Homo sapiens: one gene and its partners. The protein of the gene in region 2 binds, or shares a complex with, the protein of the main gene of each other region. Each region holds a gene or a part of one and is shown on either strand. Other genes may lie near its edges.

The links.
Region 1: the proteins of RHOA (region 2) and ARHGEF12 are in contact, whole or in part, in a crystal structure (PDB 1X86), measured with the Homo sapiens proteins. Residues at the interface, in NP_001300870.1 of Homo sapiens: Arg5, Lys7, Thr19, Lys27, Val33, Tyr34, Pro36, Thr37, Val38, Phe39, Glu40, Asn41, Val43, Asp45, Glu54, Trp58, Asp59, Ala61, Gly62, Gln63, Tyr66, Asp67, Arg68, Leu69, Leu72, Ser73, Asp76, Glu97; in NP_056128.1 of Homo sapiens: Pro766, Asn768, Gln770, Glu790, Val791, Glu794, Thr798, Ala801, Cys888, Gln891, Pro892, Lys899, Arg922, Arg923, Leu924, Gln925, Lys927, Asp928, Pro931, Thr932, Met934, Gln935, Thr938, Lys939, Leu942, Leu943, Asn946, Arg968, Leu971, Asn972.
Region 3: the proteins of RHOA (region 2) and ARHGEF28 are in contact, whole or in part, in a crystal structure (PDB 6BC0), measured with the Homo sapiens proteins. Residues at the interface, in NP_001300870.1 of Homo sapiens: Arg5, Val38, Phe39, Glu40, Asn41, Tyr42, Val43, Glu54, Ala56, Trp58, Arg68, Leu69, Leu72; in NP_001171164.1 of Homo sapiens: Lys1140, Ile1142, Arg1144, Glu1145, Val1146, Ala1147, Asn1148, Glu1149, Phe1154, Ile1156, Ala1158, Ser1159, Ser1160, Pro1163, Glu1164, Met1165.

What each region holds. Positions count from the first base shown.
Region 1 is NC_000011.10:120,331,336-120,339,518, reverse strand, and holds the start of ARHGEF12 (rho guanine nucleotide exchange factor 12), read right to left. Parts: upstream 3,107-8,183; 5' UTR 2,276-3,106; coding exon 2,244-2,275; exon of another isoform or gene 1,650-2,243; intron 1-1,649. UniProt on the Homo sapiens protein: May play a role in the regulation of RhoA GTPase by guanine nucleotide-binding alpha-12 (GNA12) and alpha-13 (GNA13). Acts as guanine nucleotide exchange factor (GEF) for RhoA GTPase and may act as GTPase-activating protein (GAP) for GNA12 and GNA13.
Region 2 is NC_000003.12:49,366,705-49,374,441, forward strand, and holds part of RHOA (transforming protein RhoA isoform 1 precursor), read right to left. Parts: intron 1,845-7,737; coding exon 1,724-1,844; intron 1-1,723. UniProt on the Homo sapiens protein: Small GTPase which cycles between an active GTP-bound and an inactive GDP-bound state.
Region 3 is NC_000005.10:73,621,514-73,629,301, reverse strand, and holds the start of ARHGEF28 (rho guanine nucleotide exchange factor 28), read right to left. Parts: upstream 3,107-7,788; 5' UTR 2,980-3,106; intron 1-2,979. UniProt on the Homo sapiens protein: Functions as a RHOA-specific guanine nucleotide exchange factor regulating signaling pathways downstream of integrins and growth factor receptors. Functions in axonal branching, synapse formation and dendritic morphogenesis.

The sequences.
Region 1 (8,183 bases), on a different chromosome or scaffold from region 2:
GTGCTGTTAATTTTCCAACAGTTCTAGAGTCAGCAAAATATACCTACAGTAAGAGTTAGACACTACGAAAAAAGGATGAGGTAGGGCTGACAGAAAGCTAGAAACTATTATATACTCGTAACTTTGTTAAGACACCTTGGCAGAGAAATAATACTAAACCAGTACCTCCAGATTTCACCCCAACATATATTCATATTAGGAACAACTACTCTCTTAACAGCAAATGGATGCTTTATATTTACAAAATATATTTAAATGTGGTCAAATAAGAATAATTCTTAATAAAAAAAGACCCTAGTAAAAAAAAATCCTACGAAACAGGTCTCAGCAGTGCTTATTAATTGGCTTTCCAAGGTCTTTTCTTTAAAAAAAAAAAATGTAAAATTAGGCAGCAGCACCTGAACCAGTTCAAAAAACATTAATGCCCAAACCAATTTGCAGATTAATCTTACAATATTCATTTTGTAATCTCTTGTGCCTGCACAGTGCCTGGCCAAAAAAAAAAAAAAAAAAGAAAAAGAAAAGAAACAGGCTTTCAGTAATTTCATATTTATTGAATGTTTATATGCCATCTACGTTATAAAGAGGATACAAATTCCAAGATTCTATTTCCAAGATAACGAGAAGACAAGGAAAATCCCTGAGAAGCAATGCTGAAGAAAAACCATTACTTGAGGGCTTTTCACTCACTTGTGTGTGGAATGAGTCCGTTCTGTTTCCATAAATTAAACACCTCAGCATCGCAATGAAAACCAACATTACATTAGTTCCTAGCAAGACTTTTGTTTACAGGCTCAACAGAAAGAGCGAGAATTGAATGAAGCAGGAAAACAATTATCCCCACACCCGTAAAAGTGATTTCTCAGAAGCAAAACACCCTGAAAGGAAAAAAATGGGGATAACCAGAAGAAAGTAAGATAAGCATTGTCAATACTTATCTTAAGTGTATTCTTGGAAAAGTTAAAAATTATTTCATTGAAAATGAAAACCCACTTTGAAAAATACACAAAGAGTAAATATAAATACTTTAAATATTTAACAGACTCTTTTAAGTGAACATTCATGTGATGCTGGAAAGCATCAACAGGAAGAGGAAGTTCTGTTTCTGGAGTAGCTGTTATGGTATGATAATGGAATTTGGCCCTTTTAAAATCAACAAATGAGTCTTACAATTGGGTAAAACTCTTATTAGGAAATTAAGACTACTTTGTGCAGAAGCACTATTGTTGCACTTTTCATCAAAGAGCTTTGGCCCTCTAATTCAGTTACTTGATCTATTTTTTCACGGTGTAATAATTCGAAGACTGACTTAAAAATAAAGCAAGCTGACAAATTTGGGACTAGCATGCAGTGTCATAATTAAATTGAGAATGAAATGTGGTCAAGGAATCAATATGCTTTTTATCCCTTACCCTATAAACAAGAGTAACTTAGGATAAGCAAACTGCACTTCAACCACACATGGTCTAGCTCAATTCGCCACCCACCACCATGCAACACTGGTAGGTGCTATAAAGGACAGACACAGAACTCAACAAATTCAGCTGCGCGCTTACACTATGCTTACGGCTTATATCTCTTAAACGCCAAGTGTTTCTGGAAGACGAAATATTTAAATACAAGAATTAAAAGCAAACCCCATGATTTACCCTCATTTCTTCAGCTCCTGGACATTGCTTCCAGCAAGAACCTGTGATTTACTGGTAATGTCAACATTCTGGAAAGTTATTAGATAATAATTAAACACCGTGCAGGTCAACATCTGAAAGAGATCAAGTTCCCAGATCACCATGCAGTAGGCTCAACATTAAGTTCACAGGTAGAAATTCCTAAAATGTAATTGTCTTGAGAATCTACTGCAGGACACGGCTAAAGCTGATAAATAATACACCAATACCGAGCCGACTTCAGGCACCGACCTTCACCTAAAATGACCTTCTCCTCTGATTTCCAGACGAGTACACAATCCTAATGCACACTACAGGCGGAAAACCACAATCATGGTTTTGCCTCCCCCTTCTCTGAGAATCGGAAGGGAAGTTTCTCTCCGGAAAAATTACATTTCCAAAAGCCAATCAACTGGATAACTCGGCAGCAACCCCAGGCTAACTGCACAGCTCCGAAACAACCCTCTTTCCTCTGCCTGTCAACTTCGCTGGCCAAAGGCAATCTGCAATCACCGACTCCCCTGCTAGGTCGGGCCCGATTCCGGGAGGCCGAACGAAGGAGGAATTCATACCAACCTGTCGGTGATAGTAGACTGTGTGCCACTCATTGGGGCCCTTGGCGAGAGGTCCTCCTTTTATCCAACTTGCATTTTACAGTAACACCTCCTCCCCACCCCCAGTGCTCTGGGATCAGGCCCAACTCCGTCAGGGACACAAAAGTCCAACTCAAAACTCCATTCAGTCATCTAGACCATCCGACTGTAAGGGGTCAACGGATGCGGCTTGGAGCAAAACAAGTTATCTCCCAAAACGAACTGAGAAAGCCAGGGAGCGAGTCAGTCCAGAGTGAGTCGAGCTAGAGAGAAATCCTCCAGAAGGCACAAGGATAAACTTCCTCAGAGAGGGAAATCCGCGCGCAGTGGGAAGGGGACCCGGGACTCCCGCCGGGGCTGGGGCGGGATCAGCTCACGGACGGGTGTCGGCTCCTCCTCCGGAGTCTCGGGGCCTCGAACTCCCCGCCGCGGCAAGGGCCGGGGCCCTCCCTCCCGGCTCTCTATCTGGGGCTGCCGGCTGCTCGTGGCCGCAGCGTTGGCCGCGTCTCCGGCCGTCCCGCGCCGGGCTCGCGCGATTCCATGTCCCGGGCCCGGGGCTCCTTCTGTGCTCGCCGCCCTCACCAGGCTCCCGGTGCTGGGACGAGCCGCTGGCGCCGGCGGAGAGGTCCCGCGGCCCGAGGTGACAGGGACCCGGGTCTCTCAGCGCCGCGGACTGCTCCCCATCCCTTTGAGGCCCGGACTCTTCCGCAATCGCCAGAGGCGGCGGCTCCTCCCCGACGCTCCCCGCGAGGGGCGGGAGATGCCCGTCCGGCCCGGCCTGGAAGCCCTGGTCCGGGAGGCGGAGGCGGCGGCGTCTCCCGGCGCAGGGCCGGCTCGCCGGGTTCTGGAGGCCCTCGCGGGCGCGCGCGCAGACAGCGGAGGAGGCCGGCGGCCGTGGGGGCCGCGCAACCGCGGGCGCGCGCGCGGGTTCCGGTTCCGGTTCTGGTTTCCCGGCCCTGGCCGCGTCCGGCGCGAGCTCGCGCTTCCCGTCCCCCGCCGACTTTATGGCCCCCTCCCCTCTGACTTCGGGAAGCCGCCTCACCCGGGATCCCTCCGCCGCTCAGGGCCGCGCTCTCGCCCTTGAACGGACGCCTCCGCCGGAGCCCGGTTTGGGAGAGCGGCAAAGTAGTCCTACGGGGCAGAGGGAGGTGGGACCCGTGCAGCCCCGGGAGGCCCACCCACCTCCCGCGGCGCCTGGGCCCCTGAGTGCCGAGACATGCCCCTTCGAGTCCAGTTTGTACTAAGTCGACTTTCACCAGAGACCGCCCGAGAGCGCCCCCCAGATCCCGAGGACATCGTGCCGGGAGGCTCTTTGAAAATTACCAGCCCCCCTTGTCCTGGAAACTTTTATTACTTAAGGGAATGTATTATCTCTCCTGTCTTCTGGCTGCACGCGTTCTGCCGGTTCCCGGCCGGCGCCCCTCGCTGCCTCCGCAGGCCCCGCTCACCTGGGCACCTGCCGGCTCCGGGGGGAGAGCGCTGCATGAGCCGGAGGCGCAGGGCTGCGGGAGAGCAGCTGGGGACTGCAGCCAGGGTTTCTCGGTATAAATATTACTTTTAGGCTGTTTCTGCCTTGGCAAAATGAAATGTGTTATTTGCCAAATTGATAAAGCATGGTGCTTTCCATGGCGACTTAACAAGCGTGTTGTGGAAAGAACTGGGAGAAGAAAATGAAGTATATTTATCCAGTAAATAGCATTACGGTTCTCTCTGAAGGATTCCCAAACGGTTTTTCGGTTTTTTCCCCTACTGGGTAGAGAGCTTTAGATACCCATCTAGTTTTATGATTGAATAATTCAGTATTTTGGCAATTTAGGTACCACATGTAATACAGTTCTTCAGTTCTGCCTGCAAACATCCAAAGTGGCTATTCCCTTTATCCAACTATTTTCAGACTTTTGAGCTTAAACCTATGTTGGTGACAAGGGATTTCAGCCATTTTGTGGAATCCAAGTAGCAAATCAAATCTAATAAACAGTGGATGTGGAGAGAGGAAACAATTACCTCTTAACAATGCTGTTGCAAAAAGTCATTCCGCAACAGTTCATGAAAGGATCATTATCCCCGAATAGAGGCATGAGCTCACGCTGACGTTAGTTAGAACGGGGGGGAAAAAAAGGAAAAGATAAACAGAGACCAGAGACGACTCTTTATTGCTCGATTTTTTAGGTTCAAGGCACAGCCAACTAATTTTGTAATGTTTATTTTTGGAAAGAATAGAAGCAGATTAGCCAAGGCACTTCCCTAATGATGAGACCAGGACACATTGCCACCTGCTGGTGTATTCTAGCATGACAATTCTACCCTGAAGACTCTTAAATTGAGTGTTTACATGCAACCGGAAGGAATCCCATTCATATATATATATATATATATATATATATATATATATATACACACACACACACATATACACATATACACACATATATACATATATACACATATATATACATATATATACACATATATATACACACATATATACATATATATACTGACCAAAATGCAAACCTTATCCCCAAACTTAATAAATCTTTCTTAAAAGTACTAAATATCTTATTTTCCCCTATCCTAATAATGTTACAGTGTAAGTATAAAATTAATTGAACCCAATGACTCATCAAATCATGCATTTTGGAGTTCCTCTCTTCCCTTAATACTTGAGGGAAGCCTCAATACTTAAGCTTCAGGAATAAAACAAACTGGGAAAGTTTCCTAATTCACCTTCTCTTCCTTGCATACAAAACCTCTTGGCAAGCTGCTTTCAAGATCTTTCCAAACTTAAACAGACCCACGGTTCTAGCTGTGAGCAAAGAAGGCATTTTGCTGTGGGAAAGCTTCAGAAGATGGTAAGCAAAAGATTGAATTAAGCCAGTGGTTATTCATTCCAGAACTAATTTTTTTAAATGATGAAAATCTCTATAGTCACCTACAAAGCATTAATGATTTAAAAAAAAAAAAAACTGAAAGCCTCTTTAAAGCTGCCGATAGCTCAACTGTTCTAAAGGCTGTAACTATAGGATGCCTTCAGAAAGTCAAGCCAGTCTGGGTAGAACACACTCCTCAGGGTCCGTAGTACTTTACTTAGAAAAATGACATTGATGACCCAATCCACTGGGAAAACCTTTGAGGAGGTTTTCCAATGGGGATGATTCTAAACCACATTCTCATCCTCTTGTCCATTCTTTCAACATGCTTACTAAGTATCTACTATGCATCCCAGACTGTTTTAGGCATTGGTAGTACAGTCCTCAAGACAGGGCCTCCAGCTGTCTTCAGATGATGTCTCTGATGTCAACTCACTTGACATCAACATTTTCAAGACAAGTGTCCAAACAGGTGGCAGAACAAGAAACACATTAAGGTTCTTCCTCTCTCTTTTGGCAAACTGTTTTGTGTATGTCAACTGTTACCCCCCAAAATAAAAAAAAATAGGGGGAATGATGGATAATGAACAGCAGATTAGAGATATTCACTAGTAAGTATGAATACAGGTCAACATTTCTACAGGTCAAAAGGCTTTTTTTAACTTCTTGGCAAAACCACCACATAAATATAAAGACAGACTCTGGGTTTATAAAAAGTTGTTTTACTTTTATAAAATTTAGTACAAATCTTATGGAAATATAAATCGTTCTTGAACAGTGTTCGTTATCATTACACAGTAATCCAGTGCAAATGAGTACTTCATTTTGTCCAAGTATACCACACATTAATTAGCCCTTCATTTACCTGTGGTTTCAGAACTTAGCATTGTCTTAACTGCTGAGTCATCTTCAGTTCACATTGTTCTCTCAGAAGTTTTTTCATAGTTATTAGTAACAACATCAAGAAAAGCTGAAATGAGGGATTCCCTTCCCCTTACCAATTATTCAGATTTCTCACCATTCAAAAAAACCTACATACAGTTCCATGAAAGTGTCCCCAAAACAACAAGATCTGCAGTCCCTTCACTTCTGAGGAGTAAGAGAGAAAAAGAATTGGTACCAGATTAAGCCTGTTCATTTGTCTGGTATGGAACAGGTTGCACTGTGCCAAAATTCAAGAGCCAGCTTTTTTTCTTTTTTTTAAGCTCATGTGCCAGGCCACTCTTTTCTACAAGCTTTTGCTAAAATCAGCATTCCCCAGCATCCTACTTTGACCGCAATTTTGTTGGAAAGAAGCTTACCAGCATTTTAGGGGCGCTCATCATAGAAAAAAAAAAAGTGGAGATTAAGAAAAAAAACAGGAAGTGGAGATGCTGTCAGATTATCTCAATGCCCAGCAAAACTCTTTAACCAAATGACATTCATTTTTAAAGACCCACTGTTAACATGCATTTAAAGTTACTGTTTCCCTAACAGTGATGACTTTATACCATTCCAACCACTCCCTCATACCTGGTTTCTGTGGCCAAGACCATTTTTCATTTTCAAGACCGCTCATGGCTGGGCACGGTGGCTCACACCTGTAATCCCAGCACTTTGGGAGGCCGAGGCGGGTGGGTCATGAAGTCAGGAGTTCAAGACCAGCCTGGCCAACATGGTGAAACCCCGTCTCTACTAAAAATACAAAAAGTAGCCAGGCATGGTGGCACACGCCTGTAGTCCCAGCTACTCGGGAGGCTGAGGCAGGAGAATCACTTGAACACAGAAGGCGGAGGTTGCAGTGAGTTGAGATCACACCACTGCACTCCAGCCTGGGCGACAGAGCAAGACTCTGTCTCAAACAACAACAACAACAACAACAACAACAAAAGACACCATTCATTACGTTAGATTACCAGTGGCCATGGAATGGACTGATGCTTCCTACTGACCAGCCTTGACTCCAGTAGCACCATATGCTTGCTCACCCACTGAGCTAATCAAACACCATTGACTTCAATAACATGGTAAAAATAAATAATCAATAAATACATAAATACTTCATATTTCCATAAAAGCCCTACATTAAAGACCTCCATTAATAAAATGCCACATAATGTATTTATGAAATATACTACAGGGTATTTCATTCATTCACAATAGGTTTAAACTCAGGCAAAGAAGAAACAAGTAACCTATCCAAAGTGAGTGAGTAGCTCTCCAAAGTGGCAAGTGAGTAGCAAAATTAGTTAAAAGAACCCAGGAATTCTGGATTCTTAACCCCTTGTTCTAAGCTTATATTCTTGCTTCTCTTGGAGACTGTCACACTAAGAATTATTATTTTTTTCCTTCCAAGACTGGCCTTGTTTTATTAGTTTGTTCATAGAGTGGTACCTTTTTAGTAAAAATAAGAAAAGTAGGAGGAGTACTAAAAGGGAAAGTATCTAAAATGAAAAAAAAAAATTAACCTCATCCCCCTGAGGCCAGTACACACTTTAAAGTCTTTGGCTCTAGTTTGCAATATGTACAGCAGAGCTGAAATCTAAACTGCCATCTCAAGCACAGTGGAATCCACATGATAAATCCCTATGGAATTTAGTCATAGCCTCAAATGCCTAGGAGATTAATGCACAAAAGCCCTGAGAACTGGCATAGTTTTCCTGGTAGGGCAGAACCCATATAACAGGACTCAGTAAATCTACCCACACTTCATTCATCTCAGATCCAAAGCCCTAACTCTATAGGTTTTGTGCAGAAAAGAGTTAACATAGCAGGCCTAAACTGCTATCCTTGGAGAGGCCTGATTACAGGGTTGGCCACTGGCCGGCATTTGGGAACTTAGATTTTGGAGGGGCTCCCACAATTAACTGATAAGACTGGCTTACTGTGTCTGAACTGCTTGTGCAAACAATATGGCTTATGCTGAACACCTGCTTTCCTTTTGAGAGTCTTGAATTTTGCTATCTGCCAGGGAAAGCCTGCCTAGATGACCTGTCCTCAGTAAAAACTTTGGGCACTGAGTCTGTAGTGACCTTGTCCAGTAGACAACTCATTCACATGTCGTAACAAATCAC
Region 2 (7,737 bases):
CAATCTTAGCTCAGCTCCTTGGGCCAGCATGACCTTAAACAAGTGGCTCAATATCTTGGAGCAACCCCAGTTATCATCATTAAGGTAGGGACAACCATAACAACACAATCACTCTAACACTAACTATCCAGGCAACCCGAGGCCACAAGCAGACCCTCAAAGGCTGTTTGTGGTAATGACGACAACATCCTTGACCCACCTGCTGCCCTGTCATGACAGGGAGGGCTGCAGCACAAGTTTATTAATAGATACCTCATCATCTTCAGCACAAACCTAAAGCAAGTTTTTTCAAGCCTGGTTTCACAGAATGTCAGGTTAGCATTCTTCAGTCTTTTTCTAAAGAATACTGACTTCTGGGCCAGGCGCAGTGGCTCACGCCTGTAATCCCAGCACTTTGGGAGGCCGAGGCAGGCGGATCACGAGGTCAGGAGATCAAGATCATCCTGGCTAACGTGGTGAAATCCCATCTCTACTAAAAAATACAAAAAATTAGCCGGGCGTGGTGGTGGCCACCTGTAGTCCCAGCTACTTGGGTGGCTGAGGCAGGAGAATGGCATCAACCCAGGAGGCAGAGCTTGCAGTGAGCTGAGATCAAGCTGCTGCAATCCAGCCTGGGAGACAGAGCAAGACTCCCTCTCAAAAAAAAAAAAAAAAAAAAAAAAGAATACTGACTTACTGACTTCTGAATTATGTGGCTGTGTTTAGGCTAATGAAATGATCACATTCAAGCTTCTATCAGCTAAGACACTTCAGAAAAAGGCTAAGACAGGGCAACCAAAAAAAAGAAAGTCTTTCCCCAAAAGAGATGGCTTTACATTTGGAACTCATCTAGTTTGCTCATCTTTTTTTTTGGGAGATGGAGTCTGCAGTACAGTGGCATGATCTTGGCTCACTGCAACTTCTGCTTCCCAGGCTCAAGTGATTCTCCTGCCTCAGCCCCTGGAATAGCTGGGATTACAAGTGCACGCCACCACACCCAGCTAATTTTTGTATTTTAGTAGAGACAAGGGGTTCACCATGTTGCCTAGGCTGGTCTCAAACTCCTGACCTCAGGTGATCTGCCAGCCTCGGCCTCCCAAAGTGCTAGGATTACAGGTGTCAGCCGCCGCACCAGCCTTAGTTTACTCATCTTTGTATCTGGAATTCATCTAGTTTACAAGGCAGTTAGATTTTTAAATAACATTTAATATTATTTAGTAATAATAATAATAATTATTATTTTTGAGATAGAGTCTTGCTCTGTTGCTCAGTCTGGAATGCAGTGCCATAATCTCGGCTCACTGCAATCTCCACCTACCAGGTTCAAACGATTCTCCTGCCTCAGCCTCCCAAGTACCTGGGACTACAGGCGTGCACCACCATGCCTGGCTAATTTTTTTGTACTTTTAGTAAAGACGGGGTTTCACCATGTTGGCCAGGCTGGTCTTGAACTCCTGACCCTCAGGTGATCCACCCGTCTGGACCTCCCAAAGCGCAGGGATTATAGGTGTCAGGCACCGTGCCCTGCCTAGGTGGATACATTTTAAATACAGTACCCATGGGAGACCTAGGCTGAAAGGGACCCAAGGCCCACGCTCTACAATCCCAAACTCCAGGACTCCGGCCACTGACGATGATTGCTTCTCTGAAGTTCATGTCTGCTTTTCAGCCACTTGATGCCCAGAAACCAGATGCCAACTAGCTACACAGGCAGTGACAAATATCAGGGTGCAGGGCCACTCACCTAAACTATCAGGGCTGTCGATGGAAAAACACATCAGTATAACATCGGTATCTGGGTAGGAGAGGGGCCTCAGGCGATCATAATCTTCCTGCCCAGCTGTGTCCCACAAAGCCAACTCTACCTGTAATGGGAAAAACAACCACAAGAGTGCAAGGTTAATCCCCCCACCCACTTTTAGAAAAAGTGACACTTACCATAGTACATTGAAATGGCAGACCATTGAAATGGCAGACGGTCTAAAACAGTAAAACACAGGAGTATTTACATTTTTTCTTTTTTCTTTTTTTTTTTTTTTTTTGAGATGTAGTCTTGCTCTGTCGCCCAGGCTAGAGTGCAGTGGCGCGATCTCTGCTCCCTGCAAGCTCCGTCTCCCGGGTTCACACCATTCTCCTGCCTTGGCCTCCCAAGTAGCTGGGACTACAGGTGCCCGCCATCACACCCGGCTAATTTTTTGTATTTTTAGTAGAGACGGGGTTTCACTGTGTTAGCCAGGATGGTCTGGATCTCCTGACCTCATGATCCGTCCGCCTCGGCCTCCCAAAGTGTTGGGATTGCAGGCGTGACCCACCGCGCCTGGCCTTTTTTTTTTTTTTTTTTTTTTTTTTTTTTTTTGTTGAGACGGAGTCTTACTCTGTTGCTCAGACTGGAGTTCAGTGGCAAGATCTTGGCTCACTGCAAGCTCTGCCCCCGGGTTCATGCCATTCTCCTGCCTCAGCCTCCTGAGCAGCTGGGACTACAGGCGCCCGCCACCACGCTTGGCTAATTTTTCGTACTTTTAGTAGAGACGGGGTTTCACCATGTTAGCCAGGATGGTCTTGATCTCCTGACCTCGTGATCCGCCTGCCTCGGCCTCCCAAAGTGCTGGGATTACAGGCATGAGCCACCACACCCGGCCGAGTATTCACTTTTATGAGCATCAAGCTCAAATGAGAGTATATTTAAATTATTTTAGGTTGAAATTTCTCAAAATTGAAAATCTGAGAACCCACCTCTACAAAAACACCTTAAAAATTAGCTGAGTGTGGCCAGGCGCGGTGGCTCATGCCTGTAATCCTAGCACTTTGGGAGGCTGAGGCGGGCTGACTGCCTGAGCTCAGGAGTTCGAGACCAGCCTGGGCAACATGGTGAAACCCCGTCCCTACTAAAATACGAAAGAAATTAGCCAGGCACGGCAGCGTGCGCCTGTAGTCCCAGCTACTGGAGAGGCTAAGGCAGGTGAATTGCTTGAACTCGAGAGGCAAAGGTTGCAGTGAGCCAAGATCGTGCCACTGCACTCCAGCACTCCAGCATGGGCGACAAAGCGAGCCTCCATCTCTAAAAAAAAAAAAAATAAATAAAATAAAACTTAGCTGAGTGTGGGCTGGGTGCGGTGGCTCACGCCTGTAATCCCAGCACTTTGGGAGGCCAAGGCGGGCGGATCACCTGAAGTCGGAAGTTCGAGACTAGCCTGACAAATGTGGAGAAACCCCATCTCTACTGAAAATACAAAATTAGCTGGGCGTGGTGAAGCATGCCTGTAATCCCAGCTACTCAGGAGGCTGAGGCAGGAGAATCGCTTGAACCCAGGAGGCGGAGGTTGCAATGAGTGGAGGTTGCAATGAGCTGAGATTGCACCACTGCACTCCAGCCTGGCCAACAAGAGCGAAACTCCATTTAAAAAAAAAAAAAAATTAGCTGACTGTGGTGGTGCACGCCTGTAGTCCCAGCTACTTGGGAGACTGAGGTGGGAGGACTGCTTGAGCCCGGGAGGCGGAGGTTGCAGTAAGCAGAGATTGTGCCACTGCACTGCAGCCTAGGCAGTGAGACCTTGACTCAATTAGGAAAAAAACAAAAAAACAAAACAGATACTAGAACTGAACCAAGTGGCATAATTCAAAATGTCAAGTCAAAAATAACTCTGTAGCTTATAAAAGTGTTTAATTATAAATAACATTCTACTAGGAAAGAAAGCAGACAGGAGGGAAGAAATCAAATTTTAAATAACATCCTACCAGGCATACAGGCGAGAGAGGAAGATACAAGACTAAGTAAATTTTCTGCTATAATGTGGAAACCATGGAAACAAATCTGTATTTTGAGTTGGTAGGTAGGAAAAGACACCATGCTGGCTGTTAGGCAAGGCCTGAGATGACAGGAAAGCCCTTTTGGCTGTGCCTTTACTACTCAAGAAATGTCTGAAATAATGCATCACGTAAGGTGAGAGAGTACTCCTTTCACATCCGGGTACATCCTCACCCTCCTGTGGTAGAAGGGTAAACTGATGCCTGGGCTCTGAATACAAGTCCCATTCAACACTGCCCAGCACTGCACCCAGCTCTGCTACCCCATTCTTATCACCAGACTCCATGTTAAACATCCTCTGTACAGAGGCCCTTTGAGGCCCAAGAGGTCTCCCTCCAATACTTGGAACACATCTTTCTTCTCTTAGCACCTTCACAGCCCAAATTTCAGTTTCTAAATGATTTCTTCCTTAAAATTGATGGCTCTTCCACCCCCGAACTTTTGCCCCAGGATGCATCACAAATAACCTCCACAAGGCCCACTGTACTTCTGTCATGCAAACCATCATTCTGGCATGTGTAACTAAGATATACTGATGCCCAATTATCACAATCTGTCTGCCCTCACAATAATGGAGCTCATTTACTCCCTGGCAAATCCCACTCTCCCGGCCCCCTCCACCCCACGGTGTTTAGTCATATATCCAGCCTCTATTGGCGCTTGATAAAATGCTTCCAAGATGTTGAGTCTGTCTCATATCAAAAGGGGCCTTTTCATTGTGAGCAGGCCTACTCTTGGTACCATGATCACCTACAATCTTGTATGGTTCCCTAGGCTGTACTATTGCCTACTGTTTTTTTTTTTTTTTGAGACAGAGTTTCGCCCTTGTCGCCCAGGCTTGAGTGCAGTGGCGCAGTCTCAGTTCACTGCAACCTCTGCCTCCCAGGTTCAAGTGATTCTCCTGCCTCAGCCTCCCAAGTAGCTGGGATTACAAGTGCCTGCCACCACGCCCAGCTAATTTTTTGTATTTTTAGTAGAGATTGGGTTTTGCCATGTTGGGCAGGCTGGTCTCAAACTCCTGACCTCTGGTGATCCTCCTGCCTCAGCCTCCCAAAGTGCTGGATTACAGGTGTGAGCTACGACGTCTGGCCTTATACTATTGCATACTGTTAAATGAATATTCCTACACAGTACCCTCTCCCATCTTGGGGACTCTTGAGTTGCTCTGAGGCAGGCAGGTAGCCTGTAATATGCTCTTCAATCAAACACTTTTATTCCAGGGGACTCTCCTCAAGTGAGAACCTCCCCCTATCTTGCGAGGGTCAGTGATGTCCAAGGTTTGCAGCACAAGAAAAATACTCACAGACCATGCCTCAAGGTTTTAAGTCAAGGTCTCTAAATTTCTTATGGGCAAGATTCTGGTTGTTCCAAGATGCCCAGGCAGAAATAATGTTTCCAAGAGAACCAAAGAGCTGCTTCCAAAACATACATACTGCCACAGATGGAAAAGACCCTTCCAGTTCATGCTTACAGACATGCAGCAATTAACAGCCACTCTCTGGAGAAAATGTTAGGATACAACCAGTAATATACATTCACTACTAGGCTTTTGAGAAATAAGCTATGAAAATGCCAACCTGACATTGCTTCCCCAAGCCAATGGATCTTTCTATGTATGGTGCATCAATCTAAGTTAGGTAAGAGGGCTATAACTTGACACCAATCCTGAAGATGTCATCACATTTCTACCTAGTTTGTCACAACTGGGCCCTGTGTCCATATAAAACCAGTTTTCCTATCAGGACCACAAAAACACCTATGTCCAAGCATCCATGCTTGGCTGAGGCTGAATTAACACCCTCTGTATTGGTTTGCCACCTTCAGGGTACATCCCAAAATTCTGTTAGGCTGGTATTTGTTGTATTTTTTCCATCTATACTTGGGCCAGAAAGTATCTTAGAGTTCCTATTAGCATAAGAGCAATCATCGTGGCTCACTCTGTATTTGAATAAAAAAGAGCACAAACTATAGGACGGGCGCAGTGGCTCACGCCTGTAATCCCAGCACTTTGGGAGGCAGGCAGATCACGAGGTCAGGAGATCCAGACCATCCTGGCTAACACGGTGAAACCCTGTCTCTACTAAAAATACAAAAAACTAGCCAGGCGTGGTGGCGGGCGCCTGTAGTCCCGGCTACTCCGGAGGATGAGGCAGGAGAATGGCGTGAACCCAGGAGGCAGAGGTTGCAGTTAGCAGAGATCACGCCACTGCACTCCAGCCTGGGCGACAGAGCGAGACTCTGTCTCAAAAAAAAAAAAAAAAAAAAGGACTACAAACTATGAAAGAGGGTTTTGAACATGGCAGTATTCATCTCTTAGAAAGCGCTTTGGTGCTGCCAAACATTTTCCGTTACTTCACAGAACCTTGATGTCACCTATAAAAACCGTTTTACAAATGAGGAAGGCTCAAAGGTCAGGAGCTTACTGATGGTCAAACAACTATCAGGAAGCCCTACAATGAGGGACCCTGGAGTTCTGAGCAGCTGATCTAACCCACATTCCTCACACAGTGCCACAAAAGGAGGCTAGGTGGCCCTAGGACAGAAAGAAATAAGTAATGTGGACAAGTAGAAGTGGCCAGGCACGGTGGCTCATGCATGTAATCCCAGCACTTTGGGAGGCCAAGGCGGGCGGATCACCTGACGTCAAAAGTTCGAGACCAGCCTGGCCAACATGGCGAAACCTCGTCTCTACTAAAAATACAAAGATTAGCTGGGCTTGGTGGCAGGCACCTGTAATCCCAGCTCCTCGGGAGGCTGAGATAGGAGAATTGCTTGAACTCAGGAGGCGGAGGTTGTTGTAAACCAAGATCATGCCATTGCACTCCAACCTGGGTGATAGAGGGAGACTCTGTCTCTAGACAAACAAACAAAAACAAAGTAAGAAAGGAGAAAGGGGATGAATGGAAGCTAATATATCAAGTGTTAGCAGCATATGAGACATATAACTGAATGCTCAAGAAAAATGAGAATGTTGGAGAAGAGCACCTCATTCTAGTTTTAGGGGTTTTTTCCTTTCAGCTGACCCACTTCAAAAGATGTATAGGAGAGCTGGGCACGCTGGCTTGCGCCTGTAAGCCCAGCCACTTGGGGCTGAGATGGAAGAACTTGAGCCCAGTTGTTTGAAACCAGCTGGACCAACACAAGACCTCATCTCTAAAAACATAAATTACCCAGGTGTGGTGGCACATACCTACAGTGCCAGCTATTTGGGAGGCTGAGGTGGAAGGATCACTTGAGCCCAAGAGTTCAAGGCTGCATGATCATGTCACAGCACTGCAGGCCTGGGAGACAAAGTACAATCCCTGTCTCTTTATTTAAGAGAAAAAAAAAAAAGTATGAGAGGCCAAGCAAAGCATTACTTAGACAACAAAAGGAAGCAGAAGATTAAAAAAAAAAACAAAAACAAACCAAAACCAAAATTAAAACCCAAAAAAACCCTCCAATTTCACAAGAGCTTTGTTCCAGTCTTGCCAGAGGGCTTTTAGGACAGAAATGGGGAAGCACTGTTCTCACCATCAATGACAATAAAATAAAACAACTGTGGCAGGCTATTTTATGTTAAAGTAAAAAAAAATCTTTTGGCCGGGCACAGTGGCTCATGCCTGTAATCCCAGCACTTTGGGAGGCCGAGACGGGCAGATCACAAGATCAGGAGATCGAGACCATCCTGGCTAACACGGTGAAACCCCGTCTCTACTAAAAATACAAAAAATTAGCCAGTCTGGTGGTGGACACCTGTAGTCCCAGCTACTTGGGAGGATGAGGCAGGAGAACAGCGTGAACCCAGGAGGCAGAGCTTGAACTAGTAATCTAATACTGGGACATCTGATTAAATACTTTGACAGAATTTTTGTCAAAGTCCAAGCATACAAAGAAGTTCATCTGAGCATTATCTATATGGCAATGAACTAAACTTCAAATATACGTAAACTTGAAAAGAGCACATATGGCTG
Region 3 (7,788 bases), on a different chromosome or scaffold from region 2:
GGTCTTGAACTCCTGGGCTCAAGCAATCCTCCCACTTCAGCCTCTCAAAGTGTTGGGGTTATGTGCATGAGCCACCACCCCCACCCTGGCCAGCCAAATGTCTTAATGTGGAGTGTGCAAAAGTCTACTCCGAAAATGCAACAGACCCTAAAAACTCTAAAGCCAGAAAAGTGTCACCTTCAACACGGAATCCAAAGATCAGAGAATCAAAGCAAAGAGCAGTGCTGGGCACATAGTAAGACTTCAACAAATATTAGTTGAATGAATGTAAATGAAGAACATGTTCATAGAAAGAGAGCCCCATAATAGAGATTGTCAAAATGGCAAAATAGTAGAGTGACACTGCCTTGGGCTTCCGAGAACTTCCAATACCATGATAATAACAAAAGAACTAAGGGTCACAGAGACTGGACAAAATGGCAGAGTATCATACAAATGGAGCAAAATGCTCTGTGATACAGGACCTGACCTACACTTCTTAAGCAAGAAAAATATCTCAAAGCCCAGCTTTGCCTAAGTAGAGATGTGGACTCAAGTCTGACAGGGTGGCATATTTACAGCACAACTTTAGCATGGCAGAATTCCCTGAATTTGGTGCACTTCAAATGTAACACTGTTTTTACATCCTCAGTAGGAGTTGCCCAGGTTGACCCACCTCTTCATAACAAATCTTATTTAAGGTTATGGGCGGGGGCCGGTGGGGGGATCCCAGAGCTACTCTGCTTCACTAAAAGCAACATAAATACAAATGCAATTACACAAAACCTACACAAACCAGATCTGTCATATCTGATTAGTAAATAAAAGCATAATAAAATTATAGTCAGCCTAGGTAATTTAGGCTCTGTTCAGTACCATCCTAGCCATGCCCAAGTGGTGAGGCTTTTCCAACATTTATATCATGAATCTTTTTTTCTTGGAATTCAGTCCTTGGTCATAAACTGGCAGGACTTGTTGGAGCTTGGGTACCAATATAGTGGTGTACAGAATGTTTAATATAGAAGTAATAGTATATGCTGCAATTTGTTTTAATACCTACTTAGAACACATAGTCTTTTCTCACGGGGCATACTAAAGGAGGTCATGTATCAGAGCTCACCTGAAATTCCTGCCCAATTTAAGTCTTAGCCACAAGTGTAGTTTCTTATAAGAACACAATAAGAAAACATTCCAAACTCTTCTGCAGTACTCACATAATTAAAAAAAAAAAGTATGAAACCCACCCAAGTGAGGCTTCTGAGACATTTCATAGAAACTTAGTTATTAACTACTATTTTTCTTCTTTACCTTTAAGTGTTTATAAACTGCTTAAAGGACAGTTGGGTACTTCAGAGGAAAGTCTAATGACACGCCTGCTATACAACCTGTTCTTAGTTGGCCAGATTGTGTGGTTTTGATAAGGAAAAAAAAAAAGTCAAAAGCAGGACAAACACTGATTCTCTGTTCTCCATTCTCCCATTACCCAAGACATTCATCTGAGTCACACACTCTATAGCTAGCTCTGAGCCTCAGTTTCCCTAACCATTAGCTATAAGATCTGATGCTAGCCAAATTCCTATTTGATCAAAGTTAATCAGCCCAATAATCACATATAGAGTCCACATCAGAACATTACATTGAAATACTATGTTGTATTAAAAATTCCAAAGGGTTTTGCCATATTCATCTCTTTTCTGCAAATACTCCAAAGGGGTTACTTTGGCTATTAATCAAGATTAGGCAAATACCCATGTGCTTTAGGAATGTGTAACTAAAAACCCAGGACAGATCTAGAGAAACCTTCCCAGGTTTCCCAGAAGTCATCACTACGCTTGGATTGTCATGTACAAAGTAGATGCCACAGAACCTAACAAGGGTAGGTCCTTGATTTGTTTTTGCAGTGAAAACAGGATTTCACTTACACCTGACAGCTTCAGGGCCTAGGAACACAAGATAACAACGCTTCAGAAAGCCAGGGGCCCCATGGAACCCCAAATGATCAGTTCTTTATAAACGAAAATTAAAGATCTTACTTTCTTTGGATTTTGCCCAATTGGTGTGGTCCGTGGTGAACCTCTATAACTCCTGGTGTGAGGAGATGTGTGGATACCCAGGCAGGGGTCAAGGCGGGAGAAGCCGCACAAACACAGATGTTGCCACTGTTCCTCGGCCCACCCAGCCAACCAATGCGGGGACGCTGTGGGCCTATAGAGATGGATTCTTTCTTAGAAATCTAACTGGTCTCTGGGAAACCAAAGCTGGGTATCCAGGGCCGCCTGAGCACCCAGTTTCCATACAGCCCTCGACCCAAATGGTGCTTTCTTGGCCAAACACCGGCCTGTCATTCGGAAAACCTAAGCACGGGAAGGCTGGGGCACCACCACATACACCCCGGGTATTTAAGGGGAAACAAATCCATAAAATAAGCGTAAGGAGTCCCACATAATTCTGACCACCTTTCCCAACCAAGGTAACCATAAATGCCTTTTGAAACACAGCAGATGCTTCCACACGAGTAAGTGGTAGTGCGTGTGTCCTGAGCTTGCGTTCCGTCTGCATTCTGCGGTCCTGGCCCTGCCAAGCACCCTCAGTCCCGGAGCTGAAGCATGGATGGGAAGGGCGGACACCAACTCTCGACGTTCTCCCTTCTCCACCGCAGGAGTGCTGTTTATTTCCCTGTCTCCCGAAGGACACTGGCGGGGCTTTCACCCGCCCAGCCCCCGGCTCTCAGTGCGCCCGAGCGACCCCGCGCTCCGCAGCTGCCGCCGCCGCACGAGGCTGCGCCGCCCTCTCCACTTGTTGCCGCTCCCGAGGGAGCGGGAGGCGGCGCCCAGCCCTCGCGCCGCAGCGCCTGCAGCGGTTCCCCGGTCACCTCTGCTGACCCTCGCATCCCTGGGGACCCTGGAGAAAGTGGCCCTGCGGATGCGAACTCAGGTGGACAAACTTTTCCGCCCAGAGCTGCAGGGAAACGCAGACGATGGAGTCCCAAAGAGCATTTACCTGGAGCGATGGCCCCGCAGCCTCCAGAACCCAGGCGAGGCTCTGCCCCCGCGCCCTGCCTGAGGGCGCCTCGGAACGCGCCCCCAGCCAGCCGCCGCCCGGAGTCCGGAAGGCTCTCCCCGGCGATGCCAACGCCTGGCGGCGGCCGGGCTGAAGCCAAGGTTTAGGGGGTGGAGCCGCGGCCGCGCGCCCGGGCCCGGCTGGCTGCGCCAGCAGCGGGTGCCGCCCCCGCTCCCCCCGCTCCCCCCGCGCCTCCCCGCTGCCACTGGATCCCCGCCTGCCCACCTCCCGGCCCGGCTCGCGGCGGCCGCATCACATGGCGAGGCCCGCCCGCCGGCCGCGCCCGACACCGGCTCCAGGAGGAAACCTGAAGCTGCCCCTACCGCGCTGTCTCCGCCAGCCCCCTCCCGCTGCGGGGCTGCGGCCGTTGGCCTCCGGAGATCGGAGGCGCGGAGGCTGGCGCGGACCTGGCGGGCCACAGGAGTGCCAGTTGCGCCCCGGGCGCCCCCACGCCTTGGCGCCTCCCGAGGGAGGCGCTGGGCTGCCCGCTCGCGAAAGGAGTTGTGCCAGGCCCGAGGGAGGCTCAGGCTGTTCCCAGCCAAAAGCCACCACACCCGTGACATAATACGGCCCGGGTCTATTACAATAGGAAATATTATTTTTAAAAACAGCATTTGCCCTCTTATTTGAAGCTCATGTTCCCTGGCCGAGAGCTTTGCAAGCTGCGATTCCCTTCACGTTTATGCACGCAAGTGGCTGCAAGTCTTAATTCAAAAACGTATGAAAACCATAACCACTTTTACAATGAACAGCAATGTGAAGGGACTTCCTTATCCTCCAAAGCAGTTTTCCTCTTAGATGTGATGACAGCCCCAAGAGCAGAAGCCAAGCCTCTTCATCAGCCAGGCTCTCATATACAGACTTAAGACCATTATTGCAGCTTTAAAGGTAAAATTGCCCATCTGAGACTGCTGTGGCAGTAAGTGTTATAGTTAAGACTATTTGTAAGGAAATTAGTATTGAAATATAAAGTTTCTAATAAAATTTATAAAATCACCTTGAGTCTCTGCTTTGTTTTTCCTTTGAAGACTGGCTACGCACAGAACCATAACAAAGGTGTGGCCCGAGGAAGCTGGCCACCAAGATCCCAAGCCAGAATGGAGCCCAGCTCCCAGGCTGCCACCACCACTTCTCCTGGGCCTGGGCCTTTTCTGTCTCCCTTCCAGCCGCCACCTTCCCCAGCCCACCTTGCTGATACGAATGCTGAGAAAGGCTGAGATTAGCAAGAGAAAGACCATCGTGTGTCTGAATGCCTTAGCCCTGTTCCAAGGCAAAGGCTGCAATTCCGCCTTGGGAAAGGGACCCCAACACTGGCATTGCACTCCTGACCTGGGCTGTCATCCCAGCTGATTCCACCCTCAGCCCCACAGAGCTGTGAACTCAAGGCCTGGCCTCAGGCGCTGCCACAAAAAAAAAAAAAGAAAAAAAAAATATATATATATATCCTGCCCAGTGTCAAGGTACACAAGATAAAAATAAAAGCAATAATATTCTTTTCAAAAATAGAAAAAATTTTGAGCAGGGCGTGGTGGCTCACACCTGTAATCCCAGCACTTTGGGAGGCTGAGGCGGGTGGATCACCTGAGGTCAGGAGCTCGAGACCAGCCTGGACAACATGGTGAAACCCCGTCTCCACAAAAACACACAATTTAGCTGGGTGTGTTGGTGCGTGCCTGTAATCCCAGCTACTCGAGAGGCTGAGGCAGGAGAATCACTTGAACTGAAGATTAACTGAATCAACATGCCAGACAAAAATGGTTTCCAAACTCTGGTGAATAAACATGGTGATGTGTTAGAAGCCTTTGTTGTTATTGTCCTTTTTCATATCACTAGTACTGAAGCCCTCTTTTTCTTTTTTTTTTTTTTTTAATTCTGGCAGGTATGTATCTTTTTTTAAAAAACAAAAAAATGTGGAAAGAGGAACAAATATTATAAGAAGTTACCCCCAAGCCCCTTCCCCACTAAAAAGAAACCAGCAAAACTAGTAATTGTGAAACTCTCACCACCCAAGGACATACAATGCTAGCTGCAGTTTTCTTGCCTGCTCTCAAGCCCTGAGCTTGATCAATATTTAAATACGTACTTGGCTTTCAACTTCTCTAGGTTCAAATATTAAGCAAAGTGTTTGCTTCAGCAACCTTAAAAGAAGCCGTGACTATCTGAGGCAGGAAGCTATCAGTTGTGTAAATAACCCTTTGCACCTGATTGATTTCACTGCTCCAGATATAGGTCACTCAGGACATTGCTGGCACTAAGCTTGGCTGGGACAGCATTTGTTTTGAATTCAAAGACTATATATTCTCTACAGACAAGGGACATTCAGCCAGCAAGAAACCAGGCTGGCCATTCAGTTAGGGAAATTCTAACTGCCTAGTGAGTATTATGCCAATGTCCTAGCTCAGCTCTGTCTTTTCTAGAGATTCAATCCCCATTCATCCTTACATACTTCACTCCAGATAGACCTCCTCCATAAATCCTTACATTGTCCTGGTTTCTGCTACCCTCTGAATTTTGGCAAAGCATAATGGCCTTACTACACAGTGTAGCACCTGATTATATTAACTGTCACATGTTGGACAACTGTAGGCTCTTATCCTCCCTTCAACTTGAAATTCAAGGACAAAACCTGTTCCTTACCCCTGTAATCTTCACAGTCCCAACACAGGGCATTTCTGGAGTATTTAGTATTTGTTTTTTAATTGAACTATCACATCCATTATGCAAGAAGAAAAATGTCACCATTTTCAAACTTTAATGAATTATAACCACTGCTAATTATATTATCTATTTAATTATTTCCTGGCCTTCATTATATTTCCTTTGTCAATAATTCTCAAAAATTGGATAATTGTAAATCTGATGTTTAGCCACGTGAGTTAGGGAATTACTAGTGTTTCTTAAGTGAAAGCAAGATACTAGAAAATGGTAGATTTAATAGGAGGTGAACAAACTCTGGAATACAAATAGGATGATCTTGGGAAGATACAACCTTTCTAAGCCTCCATTTCCTCATCTGTATAATGGGCATAAGAACAGCATATACTATCATTGTGAGGATTACGTGACTGAAAGTGATTACAGGACACATAATAAGGATGTGGAAAATAGTGGCAGTTAATCTTTTAGTGTATGGTTGTATTAGGAGAACACTTCAGAGCTTTGAGATAATTAATAGGGCATGGCAGACCCCAAGACAAGAAACTATTTCTGGATTATAAACTTGGTTGTCCAGCCTAGGAAGGTCGGAGAACACAGAGAAAAGAGGCCAACATTATTAAAACCAGGGGACAGATCTCATGGGGAAATCCACACAGTAGTTCTCATTCTGGCTACACATTAGCATCACCTGGGAAGCTTTAAAACAATCTTGATTCCCAGAACGCCCACCTGATCAATCATTCGGAATCTCCAGAAAATTGGGCCCATGTTATTGGTCGTTTTTTGAAAGCTCTCCAGGTGATTCCAATGTTCAACCAAAGTTGGGAACCACTGGACTAAAGGAACTGAATGTATTGACACTGGAGGAGGGTGAGGATCGCACTCAATTATATGTGGTTAAGGGGAATCAGCTCTTCCATTTCCAATGTTAAACCATCAGGTTTAAATTGCAGGTGAGCAGGGCTTCCGTGTAATCTGCATATGAGTCACTTGGGGATCTTGTTAAAATGCAAATTCTGACTTAGTAGCAGATGGAGTCTGATATTCTTCATTTCTGATAAGTTTGAGTTGGGGCTGAGGCTACTGGTCTGTGGACCATACTCTGAGGAGCGAAATAATAGATTTAGAGAGAAATATTCAGATTTGTTACAGGAGAAGTCTTAACATCTCTGAATATTTTTAATCAACTGATATTTATTGAGCACCAACTATGCAAAAAATTAATATTTTGCAATCTTTGAAGAAAATAATAGGTTGTTTTTAGCCAGTTTTCAGTATGAGGTCTTCCCTAAAGGGGCAACTTACCTGTCAGGTATAGCAAGCTCAGTGCCTAGGGTCTATAATACTTATAGGGGCCAAAAAATATTTTAATTTCTTTTAAAATCAGAAGAGAAAAATGAACTTTTAGGTCAAAGAAAATGTTTTAGCATATAATATTAATATATTTGTATCTATAACAATGCAATAGTGAAATATAATTTTTCTTTTTATCTACATTTTTATTTTTCTGGAGGAAGGTGCGTATGAAGGCAAAAGTGCCCAGATCCTACAAAAGTCATAATGCAGCTATGTTCTTGAAGTCCATATTAGTCTCAGGTATTTTTAGGAAAGCACATGGAACTCATTGTGGCTGATATTTTCATGTTGGTATTTACATGAGCAAAAGGAAGATATTGGGGAAATTATAAATACGCCTTTTGAGTGGAGCCAGCCCAATAATTATGAAGAGTTCAACACTTTCCACGTGTGCAATTTGGAAACACTGGGGATGCTCCATTGACAAAACATTGTTTCTTTTCAGCTGATTCCTTAGGGTCTAAAATTCTATCACTAGAGATTTACTCCACCTCCAGAGCCAGTCTCTAGAGATTCACATTATTGAGACCCTTCCTTTGCATATTGACCTTTTTTTTTTTTTTTTGAGACAGGGTCTCACTCTGTCACTCAGGCTGGAATAAAGTGGTGCAGCTGCACCTCACTGCAGCCTCAATTCCCAGGCCCAAATAATCCTCCCACCTCAGCCTCCCAAGTAGCTGGGACCACAGGCATGTGCCACATACCTGGCTATTTATTTATTTTTGTTGAGACGGG